2 separate regions of the Homo sapiens genome follow, and region 1 is linked to region 2. Evidence: fine-mapped expression QTL. A gene starts in region 2. The other region holds a variant in brackets. All regions are shown on one strand. Distances are between the middles of the regions. Region 1 overlaps CCDC18-AS1 (CCDC18 antisense RNA 1). Region 2 holds the start of CCDC18-AS1 (CCDC18 antisense RNA 1).

What was found. PIP is the estimated chance that this variant, and not a neighbour inherited with it, causes the effect.
Region 1: its variant is fine-mapped to the expression of CCDC18-AS1 in blood mononuclear cells (TOPMed, PIP 0.97). The same link has a PIP of 0.9 or more in whole blood.

Annotation. Positions count from the first base shown.
Region 1 is chr1:93,316,608-93,326,813 of GRCh38, reverse strand. CCDC18-AS1 (CCDC18 antisense RNA 1) reads left to right here. Exons shown (of 9, transcript NR_034089.1): 6 at 152-212; 7 at 919-1,045; 8 at 2,085-2,179. Among named protein-coding and RNA genes, the nearest start is that of CCDC18-AS1, 24 kb to the left of the region's middle. The variant A/G (reference allele first, on the strand shown) is at 4,504.
Region 2 is chr1:93,341,142-93,351,347 of GRCh38, reverse strand. It overlaps CCDC18-AS1 (CCDC18 antisense RNA 1), which reads left to right and starts at 5,537. Exons shown (of 9, transcript NR_034089.1): 1 at 5,537-5,624. DR1 (down-regulator of transcription 1) reads right to left here and starts at 5,441. Exons shown (of 3, transcript NM_001938.3): 1 at 4,483-5,441. The coding sequence starts at 4,702. RefSeq lists enhancers at 4,602-4,811, 4,872-4,941, 5,311-5,846.

The DNA.
Region 1 (10,206 bases), 25 kb after region 2:
CTGGGTTTCATCATGTTAGCCAGGATGGTCTCCATCTCCTGACCTCGTGATCCACCCACGCCCAGCCTGTAAGATTTTTAAAAATATATTTATACATCATGTAATTTCAAGTACTCAAACTTTGTTTATGCTCTTCTCTTTCCCTAAATAGAATTTCCTTTCATCTCTGGTAAAAGTCAGCTCTCTAACTACTGCATCTCACAGCTGAACAGGTAAACATGTTCACTGGACCTGCTTTAAATACATATCCCTTAATGCTGCCCATAGCCAGACTATGTTTCCTTAGTCCATTCACTCTTCCACTACCTCTTGCCTTTTCTTTTCTCAAGCCTTCAATACCTCCTCCCTCATCCTCATTCTCAGCAGATGATCTTGTTTCCTATTTCACTGTAAAAGGAGAAGCCATGGGCTGGGCGCGGTGGCTCATTCCTGAAATCCCAGCACTTTGGGAGGCTGAGGCGGGTGGATCACCTGAGGCCGGGAGTTCAAGACCAGCCTGACCAACATGAAGAAACCCCATCGCTACTAAAAATACAAAATTAGCCGGGTGTGGTGGCACATGCCTGTAATCCCAGCTACTCGGGAGGCTGAGGCAGGAGAATCTCTTGAACCCAGGAGGCAGAGGTTGCGGTGAGCCGAGATCGCACCATTACACTCCAGCCTGGGCAACAAGAGGGAAACTCCATCTCAAAAAGGAAAAAAAAAAAAAAAAAAAGAAGCGATAAGAAGGAAATTGGCACAAAAAGGATAGCCCATCATGTTCTTTTTGGGCCTAATTCTCTTCACCCATTTCCCCTGTTCCCCAACTTTTACTAGACCCCAGGCCATTTTGGTACTAATCTGTTGGGCCAAAGGAAAAAAGTAATGGAGAACTAATGAAAATAATAATGTGTTTGTTGTATTTGTAATGTATTTCAGATAACTGATACCGTGCTTCCAGAAGATTTTTCTAACAGTGTTTGCAAGCTATAAAATAGTGCTTTCACTTAGAAAAGGCTAGACGTGGTGGTTCATGCCTGTAATCCCAGCACTTTGAGAGGCCGAGGTGAGTGAATCACTTGAGATCAGGAGTCTGAGACCAGCCTGGCCAACATGGCAAAACCCTGCCTCTACTAAAAATATAAAAATTAGCCAGGCATGCTGGCACATGCCTGTAATCCCAGCTACTTGGGAGGCTGAGGCAGGAGAATTGCTTGAACCTAGGAGGCGGAGGTTGCAGTGAGCCGAGATCTTGCCACTGCACTCCAGCCTGGGCAACTCCATCTCAAAAAAAAAAGAAAGAAAGAAAGAATTACCATTCTCATTCACCTTAATCCATAATAGCTTCAGAGCCCTGACTAAGAGGGCTCTGAGGTCAACCCAAATCCTCTCCTAGGACTACCAAATAGTCTCCTTTCTAAGATAAGATATTATATTAATGCTCATTTAGGCAGTGGCTTTCAGACTTTTGTTGTTTATTTCCCACAGTAAGAAATATATTTTGCATCTATAGCAAGACAGTTCAAACACATACAGTCACATTTATGACTGAAACGAAAGTTCATGAGACCATAGTTATCTTTATGATACGCAATGATGAGTCAAAGCTTATAATTTAGAAAATACTACATTAAAGAATTGTTAGAGGGAGCATAGGCTGGGCGCGGTGGCTCATGCCTCTAATAGACAAAATCTTTACGATTCCACAAATAGCTAGATGAACATTAGTTTGGAAACTACTCAACTATAACTCTCCACCCTCCACATACACACAAAAAGGAGTGCCCACATGCATGATTAAGCTGCTTGGCTATGAATAAATGACTCATATGACTGTTTGTCTAAGTGGTAAAAAGCAAAGCTGATGTAGGAACAAGTAAGGTAAAATCAATTAGGGAAAGGGAACAGCTCCTCCCTATTGTTCTTTTTTGTTCTCCACCAGCATAAACACTGCTATCCAAGTAGCCTCTGCATTACAGAGGGCTGAAAATTAAGCCCTGAATTGGGGAAAGGGACTAGATGGATTCGATGGTTTCTAAGTTACTTTTAAATCCTAAAACTTTATTCTCTTAATAAACATTTACTGATTGCTTAATACGTACCAGGCACCATGCTGGGAGATAAGGATCCAACATAAGACAAACAGTGCTGATGCTTTTGGAAAGCTCATATTCAAGCTGGGGAGACAAACAACATACAAGTAAGTAAATACAATGAAATTAATGTTGTGAAGGAAGTAACAAAGTCCAATGATAGGGAATAATAGGGGTAACCTACTACTATTCTTATCTATTATTATTATTAATTACTACCATTACGATTATGGTAGGAGTTTGACTCTATGCTGTGTCAAATGGGCAGCCATCAAAAGGATTTAAACAAGGAAGTGACATGACTTAGTTTTAAAAGAGCACTATATTGTGTGGAGAATGTGTTGGGAGGTGGAAAGAATACAAGTAGGAAAATTATTTTAGGAGTCTAGGCAAGACATGATAGGGGCTTGGATTATGGTGGTGACAAACTAAAATCCTGTTTTGTTTGCAATTAATAGACAATGAAAAAGTATTTTTGAATACTGATTTGAAAATCTTACTTATTTTGCCTCCAAAGCATACATTTTTTTTTTCTGTCTTTGCTAAATCATTTAAATCCAAGGGTTCCAAACTTTTTTTTTTTCTGCACACAGTATGCTAGTGGTGGTTGCTTTTAATATTCCAGAGCTCTGTAGTCAAGATCTTGAGTGTAGGAGTTGGTTGGGGTGGAAGGACTGTAATAAGTTGAGACTAGTGGAAAGAAGAAGCTGGTGCCAAGTTGCTGTGCAGAACAGGGCATAGGTGCATACTATAGTTCCTTGGGAATTCTATGAAGCTTGGGACAGTGTTGAAGATTCTGTATGGACAAGGCCCACCTTAGTCAAATAGGGGAAAAGAAAGATATATAAACTACAAGTTCACTTTGGAAAGGCAGAGATATCAGAATAAGAGAGTATTATTTGCATGAGGGTCTCAAAGCTTCTTGGAAGAAATGATACAAGAATTTGGAGTGATGATTATTACCCTAGAATACCATGATTATATTTCCTAAACCAAATAAGAAGAGACTTTTTCCAGCCATTTTGAGGGAAAGTGAATGGGGCTGCCTGGGAGGGCAGGAAATTCATCTAAGGTAGCAGAAAACTAAGATTTGTGGCTAGTGTTAGGACAGCAGCTGTCTGCATGTGATGAATTATTTGTTATGATACAGTTCAACGTTTCTCTGGCCTAGTCTCTGAGAAAACTTAAGTCTTTAATAAAGAACTGAAGAAAAGCTTAAAGAAAAAGACTGCCTCTTGGAGGATTAAATTGAGTTAGCCTAAGGGCCAGCTTTCAGCTCAGAGAGCTGTTACAAGCACCAGAAGGAAGGAGGTAGGAATCCCTCTCCCTACCCCACCCCTATCAACTTTGAGTAGAGCCCCAGCAGGAGCAGGGGGAGAACTAGTGCAGAGTCCTGGCTGGAGCCTTGGCAGAAGGGTGAGAAAGCTCCCAGGGCTGGGAGGCCACTCGGGACCCATGAAAATGGGAGAAACCTCACACGTTGGTTGTCCTTATAAAGAAAGGACAGGGTGGGAACTTGTTATCCATGTACCCAAAATCCCCAAGTGTGGCCTCAGAAAATAAAGGTTACATTGGGTGGGTTGGTGTAACAATTGCTGTATCCCAAAACAAGCTGTAGAATCTTTGGAGATTCACAAGAATTAATTAAACCGATATTAGTCTAGAAATGGTTTACATCCAGATTCTGCTTGGATCCGAGAAAACAGTTTCCCTAAACTTCCAGCCCCCAGTTTGCGAGAGAACAGTCACAGACACACATTCGGACTGATACTGTGTTCTTTCCTCCTACACATGTAGTTGAACAAATGCGGAAAACTCTAAAAATAAGTTCTCTAATCAAGATTCCAGATCGGGAGCAGGCTAAAAGAGGTCTGAGCAATGTTTTCATTTCTTAATGCTCTTGGTGGGTTCTTGGTGAGAGGCTTATTCTTAAAAAGCCCATTTGTAGGCTAGGAGCAAAGACGCTACAGGAATTTACCTGGTTGCTGACCAGTTACCAATGCATGTCCATGTCCATTCTGGTTCTTAAGCCACACTTGTAAACAGCATATAGACTTTTGTAAAAAGGCAAGTCAAAAGCTTTCATGAAGATATTGACATGCTATATCATGTATAAACATATTTGGCTCTTTGAAATGTCTCAGGAATGAATCATACATGTCGCTTTCCACTTTTGGAATAGACTAAAACTGGTTCAGCATGTCCAGCAGGTTAGTCTGGCTTCCAAAAGTTGTTTGGCTATGTATTTGGCTAATGCGAAAGTAATTGCGGTTTTTGCCATTGCTTTCAATGCCATTACTTTTGCACCAACCTAATATATTTGTGCATTTCTTTAAGGAAAATAATTAACCATGCTCTTACCTGCCAGAAGTAGTTCTTAGCTTAATTGCTATTTTCATCACCTTCATAAATTCACATCTAGTTCACAGCA[A/G]CATTCTAGAGGAATGGTATATGTCAGCCAATAAAAACCACCTCATTAGAAAGTGTTAAAAAAGTCATTTTAAGAAACACCATTCAAAATTTGAGTACGAAAATTAATTTTGCAGCACAGATATACGTTGAGTAGAACTTACTGTTCAAATATAGAAAATGACCAATACATATAAGAAAAATATACTTATTTAATTCCTAAAAAACACATAGATTTTGCTGATAGGAAAAAGAGAAGCAGGGATATAAAGGCATAAATTGCATGCTTTCAAAACACACAGGCTGTATTGATGAGAAACAGAGATGTGTGGACATGGATGCGTGAAAGGACTCACTAAGGCTATAATGAAGGGCCATGAGGAAAGAAAGCATTGACATTTGTTCTTTCCTGGACCTTGACCTTGTGTTATCAGGACCAGATATAGCAGATCTTATAAAGAGGGTGGAAAACAAAACCAGTAGATTCACATAATTCAATTCCAGGCCAAGAATGTAAAAGACATGAGATTGGTGTTTTTGAAAGCCAATGCTACCTAAAGGGGTAAAAATTCAAATTGTTTCTTCCATAAAATTACTTTTTAAGAAATGATAATTAGAATTGAAACAACAAAACTCTCAACTACTGGTTTTTTACAAATACAACTTTTGAAGGAAGAGTCAAGAATAATTCATTACCCTTCTTAAAACCCTGTCCCACTGTTTCTCATTATCAGCCACTTTATGTCCCAAATCACAGAGAAAAGGGGGTCTTCCTTCTTTTTCCCACCCTTTTTTTTTTTTTAGACGATGTCTCGCTCTAACGCCCAGGTTGGAGTGCAGTGGTGCGATCTCAGCTCACTGCAACCTCCGCCTCCCGGGTTCAAGCAATTCTCCTGCCTCAGCCTCCTGAGTAGCTGGGATTACAGGTGTATGCCACCACGCCTGGCTAATTTTTGTATTTTTAGTAGAGATGGAGTTTGACCATGTTGGCCAGGCTGGTTTGGAACTCCTGACCTGAAGTGATCCTTCTGCCTTGGCCTCCCAAAGTGCTGGGATTACAGGCGTGAGCCACCACGCCCTGCCTTTCCCACCTTCCTTTAACCTCCTTCCAGAAGAAAGAAATAGCCAATTTAAATAAACATCTATTGTGTGTTGATTTTGTTGTCTGTGATGTTCAAGGTACTGGAGAATGAGCTGTAAATAAGACAGACAGCAATTGTGCCCCCCAGGAGTTGACGTTCTAATGAGGGATGACAGCCAATAAACATACAGAAAAAAATGAATTAGAACTTCAGGTGCTGATCAACATTATGAAGCTATAATAGGGTATTGTGAGAAAAGTGACTCAGGGAGATGGGATACTACATTAGCTGTGATAGTCAGGAAAGGGCTGAGAAAGTGACATCTGAGTCACTTTGTATCACCTAAATCAGGGGTCCTCAACCCCCAGGCCACAGACCCATACAAGTCTGTGGCCTGTTAGCAACCGGCCTGCACAGCAGGAGGTGAGCAGCATGTGAATGCGAAGTTTTATCTGTATTTATAGCCATTCCCCACCACTCGCATTACTCGCATTACTGCCTGAGCTCTGCATCCTATCAGATCAGCAGAGGCGTTAGATTCTCATAGGAGGGCAAACCCTGTTGTGAAATGTGCATTTAAGGGATCTAGGTTGCATGATCCTTACGAGAATCTAATGCCTGATGATCTGTCACTGTCTACCATCACTCCCAGATGGGACTTTCTAGTTGCAACAGGTTCAGGGTTTCCACTGATTCTACATTATGGTGGGTTGTATAATTATTTCATTATATATTACAATGCAATAATAATATACATAAAGTGCACAATAAATGTAATGTGTTTGAATCATCCCAAAACCATCCCCCATAACCCTAGTCCATGGAAAAAATTGTCTTCCATGAAGCTGTTCCCTCATGCCAAAAAGGTTGGGGACCACTGACCCAAGTGATAAAAACAAGGAATCTTTTTATTACCCAAGTGATAAAAAGAGATCCGGGGGGCTCTCCAAGCAGAATGAGCAAGAGGTGGGATGGCCTGAAGCATGAACAAACTTGGTGTGTTCATGGGACAGAGTATCAGAGTGGTTAGAGCTCAATGAACAAGGAGAAGAGTGGAGAGAGATGAGGTCAGAGACACAGATGGGGCAAGATTTGGAGAGCCTCATAGACTCTGATGAGAAGTTTGTTGATTATTCTGATGCAATGGGAAGTCTTTAGATAATTTTAAGCAAGGAAATTATATTCTCTGGTTTACGCTTTAGAAATATGACTCTGGCTGCTATGTGGATAGAGGAAGGACAATGAGGAATCAAGAGTGCAGCCACAGAGACCAGTGAGAAGTGATGATGGCATTGACCTAGATTGGAAGAGTAGAGATGGAAAGAAGTGGTTAGGTTCAGAATATATTTTGGAAGTTGGAGCTAATGGAACCTATTGATGAATTGGAAGTAGATACTGATGGATTGAATGTGCTGTGTGAGGAAAAGAGAAGAGACAAATAGGGCTCCTAGGTATTTGTCCTGAGCAACTGAGTGTATAATTGTGTAATTTACTAGGACCGGAAAGGCTCAGGGGAAGCAGACTTGGGGTGTGATAGAAATCCGATAGCTTGGTTTTGGCCATGTTAAATTTGAGATGCTTATTAGACATCCAAGTTATATGCTGAGTAGATAGTTGGATATACAAGTTCTGGAGCTCAGGCAAGGAGCTTGGGTCTAGAGATATACACTTGAAAGGTATCAGTATATAAAGTTCTTTGAAGCAATGAGTCTAGACGAGATCACCTAGGGAGACAATATAGAAGGGGTATCCAATCTTTTGGCTTCCCTGGGCCATGTTGGAAGAAGAATTGTCTTGGGCCACACGTAAAATACACTAACACTAACAATAGCTGATGAGCTACACACACACACACACACACACACACACACACACAAAATATCTCATAATGTTTTAAGAACGTTTACGAATTTATAAATGTATAGCATTCCCTACTCTGGGATAGAACACACACACACACACACACACACACACACACACACACACACACACACACACACAATATCTCATAATGTTTTAAGAAAGTTTACGAATTTGTAAATGCATAGCATTCCCTACACTTGGATAGAAAGAGAGGAGCCGAGGACCAGAGTTCTGCATACTCCAACATTTAGCAGTATTCTGTCTTCATGTCCAAGGCAAATCTTTTATTATATTCTCTGATCTTATCCAATTCACCTCTTCTATAGCAGATTAAAAATGACTGTAAATTCTTTGACACTTCTACCAAGAGGTGGGGTGTAATTCCCTTTCCCTTGAATCTGGGCTGAGTCAGTAAGGCCAGTCAGTGACTTGACCAACGGAATTAATCAGAAGTGACATTCTGGGATCCGAGAGATGAGGTAATAAGAAGACTTATACCAATAGTTTCTGCCCAGGATATTTGGAATATCCTCTCTGAAAGCTTGAACCATCATGTAAGAAGGCCAGTCACCCTAAGAGTACCCTGGAAAGACCATCTGTAGGTGCTCTTATTGACATTCTTAGCTGAGCCCAACCTTCCAGTCACTCCTGCCAAGATATCAGACATGTGAATGAAGCAATCTTGGAATTTTGAGACTAACCCATCTACCAGCAAACCTGGCAAGTAACCACATAGGATATCGTGGGGCAGAGAAATTGCCCAGCTGAGCCCTGCCGAAATCTCTGGCCCCTCAAATCATGATATATAATAAAATGGGTAAATTTGGGATAATTTATTATATAGCAATAGAAAACTGAAAACACCTTCCCTCTTTGTCTGGGACCTTATTTTATAATCAATTCTCATCCCTTCTGGTTCATGCTACCTTCTCAACCACACATTATTTTATTACCAACTTTTCCTTCCTTCCTGGTTCTTTTTCCTCCACCTGCAAGCATGCTCAGTCTTTTCTACCTTGTTAAAAACTTTCTTAAACCTACTGCAAAATCTTTTTCCTTTAACGCACCCCTAAATTGATCTCACTGAGTTTACCAATATCTAATTGACAAAACCATCAGATATTTTTCTGTCCTTATATTTAACTGTATTCGGTTTCAGAAGTTCTCATCATGATACTTTAAGGATGAGGACAGCTGATGTGGCTGGCCTGAAAAATAAGGTAAGAACCAGAACTAATCTGCACAGTCAGGGATTTCAGTTTTTTTAGGCCTGAGTTTCTTTAGCTGAGACATGAGAAGCACCTCAAAATCAGAGCTCCTGAAGACAAGGTGGATACAGAGTGAATGAACCAAGTAGAACAGAGCTGGATAGGTGAGAGGAAAATAGCATGAGAAATTCCTTGATCTAGAATTTTGGTCCAGCATTTGAGGAACAGCAGGATCAAACTTCTGAAAATAGAGTAATAGACTGTCAAAAAGAAGGGTAGGCTTAGATTAGTGTGGAGAACAGTCAGGAGAAAGCCCTTAACCAGGTTCTTAAACTTTATTTTCCTTATGAATCAATTGGAAAAGTTTTGTTAAAGATACTGATTATCCTGCCTTGCCCAAGAAATTCTGGGGTTGGATTGACAATTTTTCTTTCAAATAAACACCCCAGGTCATTCTGATACAGGTGGTCTTCAGGCCAGACTTTCAGAAACAGCATCCTAAAGAAAGAGGAAGGGCTTGGGTGGGCATTCTGGAATGGGACCATTTGGTTATTTCTTCTTTACCTAATTGGTTAACTCATTAGTTTGCTCATGATTCCACAATCTAGGCTGGGCTCAGCTGGAACACTGGGAGGCTGAACTGAGTTTCTCTCTTTCTCCATGTAGTTTCAGGGCTTCTTCCTCTTTACATGACCTCCATATGTAGCACTTTCCATGTGGTCTCTGCAGCAGAGTAGCCAAACTTCCTACATGTGGCTCGGAGCTTCAAATAGCACAAAAACGGAAGCTGCCAGGCTTCCTTAAAGTTGAGGCCTGGAATTGGCACTGTGTCACTTTTGCTACATGCCACTTGTTGAAGCAAGTCACAGGCCTAGCCCATATTTAAGGAAAAGCACCATACAAATGTGGGAACACTGTGAGATGTGGTTCACTAAGGGGCCATAATTTAATGGGTTAGCAGAGAAAATACCAGAATAAAATAAGATAAAGCTGGCTTTGTTGGGAGTAGAGATGTATAAGGTTAATATATATAATAAGCACAACCACAAAAGCATGCTCAGTTTTTAAAGATGAACCACAAATTAAGCTCTGAGTTTCCTAATAGCCAGGAAAATCAGTTAGGGTTAAATAAATTAATAAAGAATTAACAATTATTTATTATGGGTAGTTTGCAAATCTTTTTTCCCATTCCGTGGGCGATCACTTCACATTATTATTTGTCTCCTTTGCTGTGCAGAAGCTTTTTAGCTTGATGTAATCTCAGTTGACAACTTTGCTTTGGTTCCCTATGCTTTTGAGGCCACAAAAATCTTCCCAGACCAATATCTTGGAGCATTTCCTCAATGTTTTATTTTCGTAGTTTCACAGTTTCAGGTTTTACATTTAAGTATTTAATCCATTTTGATTTTATTTTTGTATATGGTAAGAGATAGGGGTCTAGTTTCATTCTTCTGCATATGGTTATCAAGTTTTCCCAGCACCATTTATTAGAGACTGTCCTTTCCCCATTGTATGTTCTTGGTGCCTTTGTGGAAGAAGTTTGGCTGTAAATGTGTGGATTTATATTTTGGC
Region 2 (10,206 bases):
AAGGCTGAGAACACTGCTTTCAAGTAGGTCCAAGGTTAATATTTAATATTATTCAAAGAGTTGCCATACGTAAAAACTATACTCTCAACAAAATGGTTGAAAAGGAGCAGCCATAAATTTAATTTCAAAAATTTCATTGACTTTAATTTTAAACACATTGGGCTAACAGATATCAATAACTGGACATAATACCTTCTAAATAGAGAGATATTTTACATTATTTGCTATCATGTATTAGTTATCATTCCCATTTTACACAAAGAGAATATTAAAGGATAAAGGAAATGGCTCCCAAGCAGGGCCACCATTTACATACAGTTAGGTAGGTTGTTCAGTACACAACATACTAGAGGGCCATTCTTATTGTAAATACCATAAATTCGTATGTTTACTGTGATACTTTTTCTGGCAGACAGTAGTAATGCTTTTTAAGGAAGGAGTGCCTTTTTCTAATTTGTACAGAGACCTTATGGACTATTCATGGCCCTATTTCTAAGGATCTCATCTTTCCAAAACAGAAAAATATTTTTTTAAAAATTTGTGAGTAAAATTAACACACATCACTATCTGTCACCCTATGCCGTGTATCTCAAAACTACAACCAGAAAAGTCCATGGTGTACATTAGGGGAAAAAATACTTTGCACATTTTTCAGCTTAAAAGACAGATGTTAACAAGACAGCTATTAAAAAAACAAAAAAGAAGTAAAAATTTCTTTGAAGCAACAATAATCTTCATATAGGCTTATCTTATTTTACAAAGTGATGTACTCCTGAAAGGTTCTGTCATAACATGAATTTATGTGACTCACTTTATACTTCATATGCATAAAACATGTTTTTCATTTGTAAAATTACGTGATATACAGTACCTTTTAAATACTATATAAATCAGCATTCTCTAATTTCTCCATTTTCTTTTGTTTGTGGGAAGGAAGCAACTAATGTATTTCACATAAAATACATTAAGAGGATGTAGGCCAAAGTGACTTCTTGGCTCATTAGCCTGGCAAAGGTTTCTGAAACCCCTTAAGAACCATGTCCTCCATGGTATCACTACTGGAAATCTTGGACAACAATGAGAGACTAATGGCAGAGAAGGAATTGAGTATCATTTATCTTAATATCCTTAGTAGTACCTAGCATGATGCCAAATAATTGGTAGTATTCAATAAGTAATTGTGGGGTGGCAGAAGGAAAACAGAAATAAAAGATATATTAATTTAAAGAAAAGTATTAATAAAATCCTAACTTGAAAAGCATTTGATTATGTGATAAATTTTGCAGTGCAAATTAGATGTGTCCCTTCGGAAAAAATATCTGTATAAACGATTATTTACTACTTACGTCCACTTTCCAACAGAGACTGGTTTAGGCTTTAGAGCAAAGGTTCTCAAACTGTGGTCCATGGACTTATGCCAAAACTGCTCCTAATGGTTAACATTAGTTAAGTATGGAAATTCAAAGCATTTAAGTACCTTCATTGCAATTTGACAAAATAATTTTATGTCTATTGAATCAAATAGTAAAAAATTGAGTGTTGGTCTTTCCCTCATCTTTTCCAGTGATCTATTTTCATGTTATCTTACAAAGCTACTAGTGTGAGAAGGACAGGAATTTTTTAAAAATTCCTTCAACGTAAGACAGCTTGGAGCAACTCAACAGCTGAAGACGCAAATTCTCAGATACTCTTTCAAACTTTTACTACTTTCAGTTACAATTCTCATAAATGTGAGGGGAGATATTTCATGTAAGGTTCTCAACCCCTGACTAATTCTCAAAAATTACAAGTAATACCTGAAATCAAGTATTATTTGTACACAAATAAGAAAACCTTAGTTAAAAGATTTCCCTAAGGTTAAAGAATTCTCAGTGCGGAACTTACAGCTGACTCTCAATGTCAATTCTTTCTATAAGGCAACAGAACATGTTAGAACTCATTCAAGAATACGTGTTCACAAAAAACTGCAACAAAATAGGAACACCTTTTATAGCTTAGAACTCCCTCTATTCATGTATCTATGGTCTTCAATACCAAGTCTACTTTCTTAAACTCAAAATAAGCAAAACAGAAAAAAAAATTTTTTTAAATAAGTTATTTCATAGATATACTGGTGATAAAATTAGTTCAACTTTAACTTGCATTTTACAGAACTATCTCAGAATGCTTAATTTGCTCAGACAAGATAAAGCAAGGTGAGAAATGAACAAGTGAAATGTCCTGAAGCAAAGTCTAATTCATTAAACTTATCACTAAAAACCCAAACTTCAACATGTGAGAATCATATCACTTTAAAATGTACATTACTTATTCCATTTGGATATATTCTACATTCCTAATCAATGCTGACAGAAAAGTATAAAAATGTCCTATTATGATTAGTGTATAGGCACACACTTCAAACACCTAAAACATATAAACCTTAAGAATTTCTTTAAAAATGTAATCTCTCAAAACAAAACTTCTTTGGAATAATTAAGCAATATGAGATTATAAATGTATAAAGTCTACAACCCCAACTAGGGAGAATTCTTGGGCGAAAATGTAGATTCTTAACCACTTTTAAGAATAGCATAATACAAGAAAAAAAGGTAAATTTTTAAATTTAAGGTAACACGTCAATACATGATTTTTAAAAACAAATCATCTTCATTACACAATGGAAATGCTTTTTCACTATAGCTTTCTGACTCACACATTAAACTGAATTTAGCATATTCCAAAGTTGAATTATTTAGCATACTGCTTGCTACAGCTGCACTTCTATTCCATCATGTCAATCAGAAATCTAAATATATCCTAGAAAAGAATCAACTCTCCCCAAGAAGACAGACTGTAATGTGTTATTAGGTTTTTGGAACGATCCCCACTTCTGTAGTGTAAACAAATGTTTAGGCAGACCCTGCTGAAATCTTTTGCAATTTTCATTAGAAAGGCAATGTTGATAAAGGTTCTTTTTCCTTTTTAAGAGTTGTAAAAAGAAATTATAGCTATCTGTGCTGGATAATCTTGTGAAAGACTTATGACAGCAATCACACATACAATGTAAAAATAAATACACAAGGGAAAAAATAGACAACTTGGCTTTCATTTTACTTGCTAGAGTATTCAGCACACCAAACAAGTAGAAAAAAAAAAAACTAGTACTAGTTTTAAGAATCAAATATGCTTTTTCCTAGGGATTTTTCTGCTTGTGTACTGAAATGGCAGGATATATTTTAAAACTACTTTCAAGACGTCATAAAGGATTAAAAATGAATCATTTAATCCTTTTGTCAATACTGAGAGTAAAATATTGGATATGGTCAATATAAGCAGATGTGTTCTCTACTTCAGTACAACAGGAAAGTCACATTTTAAAAAGTTAAATTATAAAAATTAAGTGATAGACAACCACCTGCCTATCAAAATGATTAAAATTAATCATTTTTCCCTGATTTCACAAGCAATCAATAACTTTAATTAGATTATTACAAAAGGCAAGTTCTCACCTCAAATTGAGTACAACTCTTTCACAAGAGTACATGTAAAAATATCGCAAAAGGTACGTTCCCGAAACATTATGAATAGTAAATATGTTTCTCCTCTCTGAAACCACCAGAATACAGTCCCCCAAATCCCTATTACGGGACCAAATCCTTTCCAGGATAAAAGAAACTGTTGAAGTTTTCAGAAGTGCTGTTCCATAAAAGCCTAAGTGTATACATTCAAATAGGAATGACAGCAGGAAAGGACGGGGAAATTTTCCGTTAAAAAAAAAACTTGCATAAACTTTCAATCAAAGATTTCAAAACTTATCTCCACAGAATAGAACAAAGCAAACGACATAAAAGCAAACGAAAAGAAAAAAACGAAAATTTAAAGTTCACCCTATTCTTACAGAATGGAACAGGAGTTATTTGGTAACTCATTCATGAACGTACCATCAAACCATTTTTAGAGCAGAAAACATACACCTTTTATTTAACAACGATAAACTTGACAACGTTGAACACATTGTATGTTAAGAATTTTTTAACTCATGTGTTCAGAAAATAAATCTTTTCCTCTACATTGGTGAAAGGTCAGGTGGGGAAGGGGGTGCTCTGTCTCCACCCACGTTGAAGTTCCTCCGTCTGAATTTTAACTTTCCAAAGGAGAATTTCTGCGTTCCTTAATTATTATCTAAGTTCAACTTCAGGCAAGTAATTCTTGTTGCTTCGGCTTACCTGGCTGTAAAGTGAGATCACTCTTATTCTTTACGTTTTGGGGACGCTGACCTAAATGTTTGCACTCCTTACATGTATTCGCTGGATGAAAAGTACTGCAAAAATGCTACAAAGGGATTGTTTTTAAAGCACCGGCTGCCTACATGCCAGTCTGGCTTTTTCATTAAGTTACTTACCAGGGAAGAGGAATGGAGGCTTTGACACGAAAGGGTCACGCGATTAGCAGACTGCTACCCTAGAACCTCATTCAAACCAGCTCTCACACACGACTTACCTTGTATGACATGCTCTGGTGAGATGGTCTTCTTTTCCGATTTGTTACAAATCTCATTGGCTTCAGAAGATATAAGGTGAATGAATTCAGTGCAGCAGTTCACCACCAGCTCTCGAGCATCGTTGGCCACCCGGACATTAGGAAGAGTCTCTTTGATCATTTTATTGATAGCAGCTCTGGGGATAGTGAGATCATCATCGTTGCCAGACGAGGAAGCCATAGTACCTTCCTGTTTCTCGCGCCCCGGCTTTTAAAAACTCCCCAGCTCTGGTCCACTACTCCACCGAGATTTCTCAAAAAGTCGCCCTCGGAGAGTGATCCCGGGGGGTGCTTTGCGAAGAGGGTGCAGAAAATGAACGGAGGAGCAGCTGGCTTGAGGGCTGGGAACACTCGCGTGTGTGAGAGATTTAGGATGAGTTTGGGAAGAAAGTGGGGGCCCGAGGATTCTAGAGAGAGCACAGCCCAGGCTGAGGAGGGGAAAGCGCGGTGGTCCGGAAATTTGAGCGGCTGGGGAACCACCTTCGTGTCTCCTCAGAGGGGCGGGCGCTGTCGCCTAACTGGTCCCCAACGGCGTCGGAGCAGAGGCAAGATCCAGGGGCACTGGCCTCGCCGCGGTACCGGGCGGGTACCCAGCGGGCTCGGCTCTATAGAGCCCGAGGCCCCGCTGCCGCTGCCGCCGCCGCCAGCAGCCGTTGCCGCCGCCTCGGCCAAACCATCCTTCAGACACCCGCGCCGCCGCCTCACAACATGTCCGCCGCTGCCGCTGCCGCTGCCGCTGCTGGAACGGCGACGGCCGCCTGGGAACTAATATGGACAGAGCCAGGCACAGTGGGAGTCGCAGTGGCTGCCGCCGTGGCCGCGTAGCCCGAACGCAGATCGTGGAAGCCGAAGACGCGGCAACGGTGGTCCCTCCAGATGCCAGGGAAGGTTTGCAGGAAGCCGCTCCCGACACCCTTTGCGCCACCGGAAGCCTCGTTCCCTCAGATTTCCCCCTCCCTCCCGGACCGACTTCCGGGTGTGGCTGCCGCCCTTCCCCCACCCACGCCGGCGGGAGCCGCCCGTTCGCGCTGCCAGCAGCTTCCGCCTGCTACGGTCCTGGCAAGCACCTCGGGATCCCATTCCTTCACAGGGACCCTAGCCAGGCAAGCGCGCGCCTCACTGTACCGGAGAGCTCCAAGCACGCGCTTGGTCTGGGGCCCGGACGCTACATCTGGGAAGGGGTGGGTGGCTGGGTAGATAGGCGAGGAAGGATCGTCTCTACCCTCTCTCAAGTAGCTGAGGCCTCCGAAACCTTCCCTAGCTGGATTTGGGGACAGAGGAGCGCTGGTATTGATAAAATAACTCTCTTTGCTATTCCTTTAGGAGCCCAAATGAGGATTGAAAGTGAGAAGAATGGGACCTGGGCTTGGGGGTGGGAGGTGGGGAAAGCAGAACCCCGTGTGCCTGTTTCTGCGTCGTCTGGAGAAAAAGCTTTTCAAGATGTCTGATAGACCTTATTCGGTTCAAAGCTCTCTAAAGTCCTTCACCTTTTTTTTTTTAAACTTCATGAAAAATGAAACATTTCAGAGAAGTTACTTGCCTAGAGGCAACTAAGTCGCCTAATGGCTAAGTAGGAAAGCAGAAGTCAGTTCCAACATAGTGGAAATGGAGTGGAAATGCATGGCATACAATGAGCTATATTAGAAGGTTCCCATTTAGACAGTTTTCATGTTGTATTCCATGTTGGCTTCTACAGGGGAAAAAAGTGTTAGAGCATCTTAAGCAACTGTTTTTACTTCTTTCCATAGTGACTAGTAATATCAACAGGTGTCAAGGTCTAAACAGAAATTGCATTTAAAAAAAAAAAAAGTGTGTCAGCCAGGCGTTGTGGCTCATCATACCTGTAAACCCAACACTTTGGGAGGCTGAGGCAGGGGGATCACATGAGCCCAGGAGTTCAAGACCCGCCTGGGCAACATAGTGAGACCCGTCCCTACAAAAAAAAAAAATATATATATATATATATATAATATATATTTATATATATAAATATATATTCCAACATCCCACTGTTTATAGTATAGCCTCTTCTATATGACAATATGAAACACGGGTTTTTTTTTCACCAGGCTTGGTGGCAGGCACCCGTAGTCCCGGCTACTCTGGAGGGCGAGGTGGGAGGATCGATTGAGCCAGGGGGTCAAGGCTGCAGTGAGTTGCGGTTGTGCCACTGCACTTCCAGCCTGGGTGACAGAACAAGATTCTTTGTCTCAAAAAAGATAAAAAAAAAAAAAAAGTAAAAAAACTGAGTCTGTCATACTGTCATGTGGAAGAAGAGGCTATACTATAAATAGTGGGATGTTGGAATTTCTAAAAACTAAACAAGACACTGTTGAAATCCATTTTGTCACTTTGGTTCATCAGATTCATTACTCTTGATACATATGATGGCAACTGGCTTGTTGACAGTGTTTTCTTAAAACGTTCTGTCTGAGCCCTATATGCTGCTCTCAAGAAGACATTACAGTTTATTATGCTATTTTTTCATTTAGCATTTTCTGCAGGACAACTTACTGGTTCTTTAATTTCTGAAGTGTAGACACTTGTTTTTCAGTGCTACTAAATTTAGTCAAAACAAAATTTCTTTGATTAAAAACAGTATTTTAATTAAATTTTCTTCAGGCTGGGCATGGTGGCTCATGCTTGTAATACCAGCACTTTTGAGAGGCCAAGGGGGGCGGATCACTTAAGCTCAGGAGTTCGAGACCAGCCTGGCCAACATGGTGAAACCTCACCTCTTCTAAAAATACAAAAATTAGCTGGGTGTGGTGGTGGGCACCTGTAATCCCAGTTACTTGGGAGGCTGAGACAGGAGAATCGCTTGAACTCTGGAGGCAAAACTTGTAGTGAGCCAAGATCGTACCACTACACTCCAGCCTGGGAGACAGAGCACGACTCTATCTCAAAAAAAAAAAAATACTTTATGAAGTGGTGGGTTTGTTTTTTTTTGTCAGTTTACTGTTGATTTAAAGATTTATTATGGTGCCTAAATTTATCTTGACCTTAACAAGTTTATCCGTCTGAAAAAGCTGGCTGGCAAAAAATGTCCCAAGTTGTCACAGTGTCACTGACCCTTATCTTGTCTCTCCTGAAAAAACTATAACTTTGCTTTTTCATGTAACATTTATGTTTATAGACTTATGCTAAATAGACGAGTAGAGCACACATTATTTCAGTAATAGTTTATTGCTACAGGCTTCTGTGGTAGCATAAACAGAATTGAATGTGTAGTAAGAGTTGTAGGTTCCAGTCCCAGCTTTTTTTTTTACTTAGACAAGTCACTCTCCAAGCCTCATTTTCTTCAGTTCAGATATAGAAATATTATGTAACACACAGGATTCAAAATCAAATGAGAGTTGTGTGAAAGTACTTTTTATAGTATGAAGTGTTATATAATGTTAGTGTCTTTTATCATCTTTATCAGGCTTGGTCAGTCTTCAACTAGTAATGAACCATGTAACTAGTTTATTACATACGTGGCTGAGAGAAATTTAATTGGATATAAATACCAGTGTGATATGTCATAAAATATGCTAATCTGTAGCCCATATTTAAATAGTTATTTATAGTACACTACATGTATCTGTATTATAAATAGGCTTTTAAGGACAAAGAGAACATCTCCTTATTAAGCTTTAAGAGTTTCAGAGAGAATGCATATATATGAAACTTTTTTTTTTCATGTTGTCTAGGTGTGGTAGTGCACACCTGTGATCCTACCTACTTGGGAGGCTGAGGTGGCAGGATCACTTGAGCCCAGGAGGCTGAGGCTGCAGTGAGCCATGACACTACTACACTCCAGCCTAGGTGACAGAGTGAGACCCTGCCTCAAGAAAAGGAAAAAAAAAGTTTAGCCTCAGAGTAGGGTTAGGGGAGTGTCACTGTCAAAAACAGTGGAGTTGAAAGGGAGCTGTTTAGAGAAGATGTGCTTGCTTTTGCACATGTTTGGGCAGGCATTTGTAGAAGTGGTGTCCTATAGAAAGTGGAAAGAGAAGACAGCATCTGATTTCTACATTCATTCAATAACTGTCTAGTGTCCTGACTATGATGTGGGAGAAATAAAGATGAATATAACTCCCACCTTGTTCTTGAAGACCCTATAATCTGGTGGGAGAAGCAGAATATAAACCAGATTCAAATAAATATTGTGATAAAATATACAGGCTAAGAATGCATGGGAAGAAGTGATTAACACACTAGTTGTGGAGTACAAAGGGTTTTATGGAGGACTGGATATTTTAACTGCACCTTGAAGATTGAGTACAATTTTGATAGGGAAGGAAAGAGCATGTAGCTGAAGAAAAAACACAAAAGTACATTGTATGGCTTGGGGAAATAAAGTAGTCTAGAGTGGCTCTATTAATAAGGTTTGTAAAGAGGTGTAGTGGTATATGATGCAGGAAAAGTAGGTTAGGGCAAAAAGAAAACAGATCAGTGCCTGATATGAATTATACACTGGGCCAAAAGTTTTTCATATTTGCTATTTCATTTAATTTCCATATAGCCATGCAAAATAGGTGTTTTGACATGGGGGGAAAACAGTCTCAGAGAGTTTTACTAATTTGTTCAAAGTCTCACAGATAATAAGTAATGGAGCTGAAATTTCAAACCAGGTTGTTACTTAACTCCAAAGCTGAAGCTATTTGTAATTTGGTAACTATCTCTAAATTAAAAAAAAAAAGGAAAAAAGGTTATATTCATTATAGGACTTTAAAAATATAAAGCACTTTCACATGTATTTGGTCTTTATAACTAGTCATTAATCCCAATTGATGGATGGGAAAATTGAAGCCCAGTGAGATTATTCAAGGTCACAGAGTGAATAAGTGGCAGATTGGAAATGCAACCCAAGCTTTCTGACTACAAAGTCTCAAGTCTTTCCACATCATTTTAAGAAGTCTGGAGATCCTTTTGTAAGCAGTGGAAAGAGTTAGTGAACATTTTTGAGAAGGGGGATGACATAAACAATAATGTTTAAAAAGATTAGTTTGAGTTCGCATGTGAGATGGTCTGGAATGGACAGAGACAAGAACATTAATTATTAAGCTATTGTAAAAATAGTAATGATGTAGACCTGAACAAAGAAAGTTTGGTGATAATAAGATAAAAGAAACAAATTAGAGGCATTTGGAAACAGAATTTACAGGATTTAGCTTCTGCCTGCATCTACCGTGAGATACGAGGACCGTGCCTAAATAATAATGGAGGTGGGGACAATGATGGTAAGAAGAGGTAGATTTGGATGGAGAGAAAGAAATAGCTATCCAAATGGATGTATCCAGTGAGAGTTGGACAGCGGAGATGTGGGATCATATAGTAGGGCTATGTAACAAGTCCCTCTATAGCAGGGTTTGTTTAAGCTAGACTGTAAGTACCCAGAGCCAGTGAGGGTCTGGTTTATTTCTGCATCCCCAGAGCCAGGACAGTCCTTGGCACTCAATAAATATTTGTTAACTTTGAAACTGGATAAAGACCTTTAAGGATGGTAGAATTTTTTGAAAAATGTTCAAAGACAGAAAGCAAAAAGAAGAAAATATTTGAGGAAAGATTTGATAGAAACCAAGAAGCATTATGTAAAGGAAGTCGTGGGGAGAGAGTTACAAGAGTGTGAGATGCCACAGAGAGGCATTGTTGGAAGGGGATCAAAGATAGTGTTACTGAAGTAAAAGTTCAGGAAGAGAGATC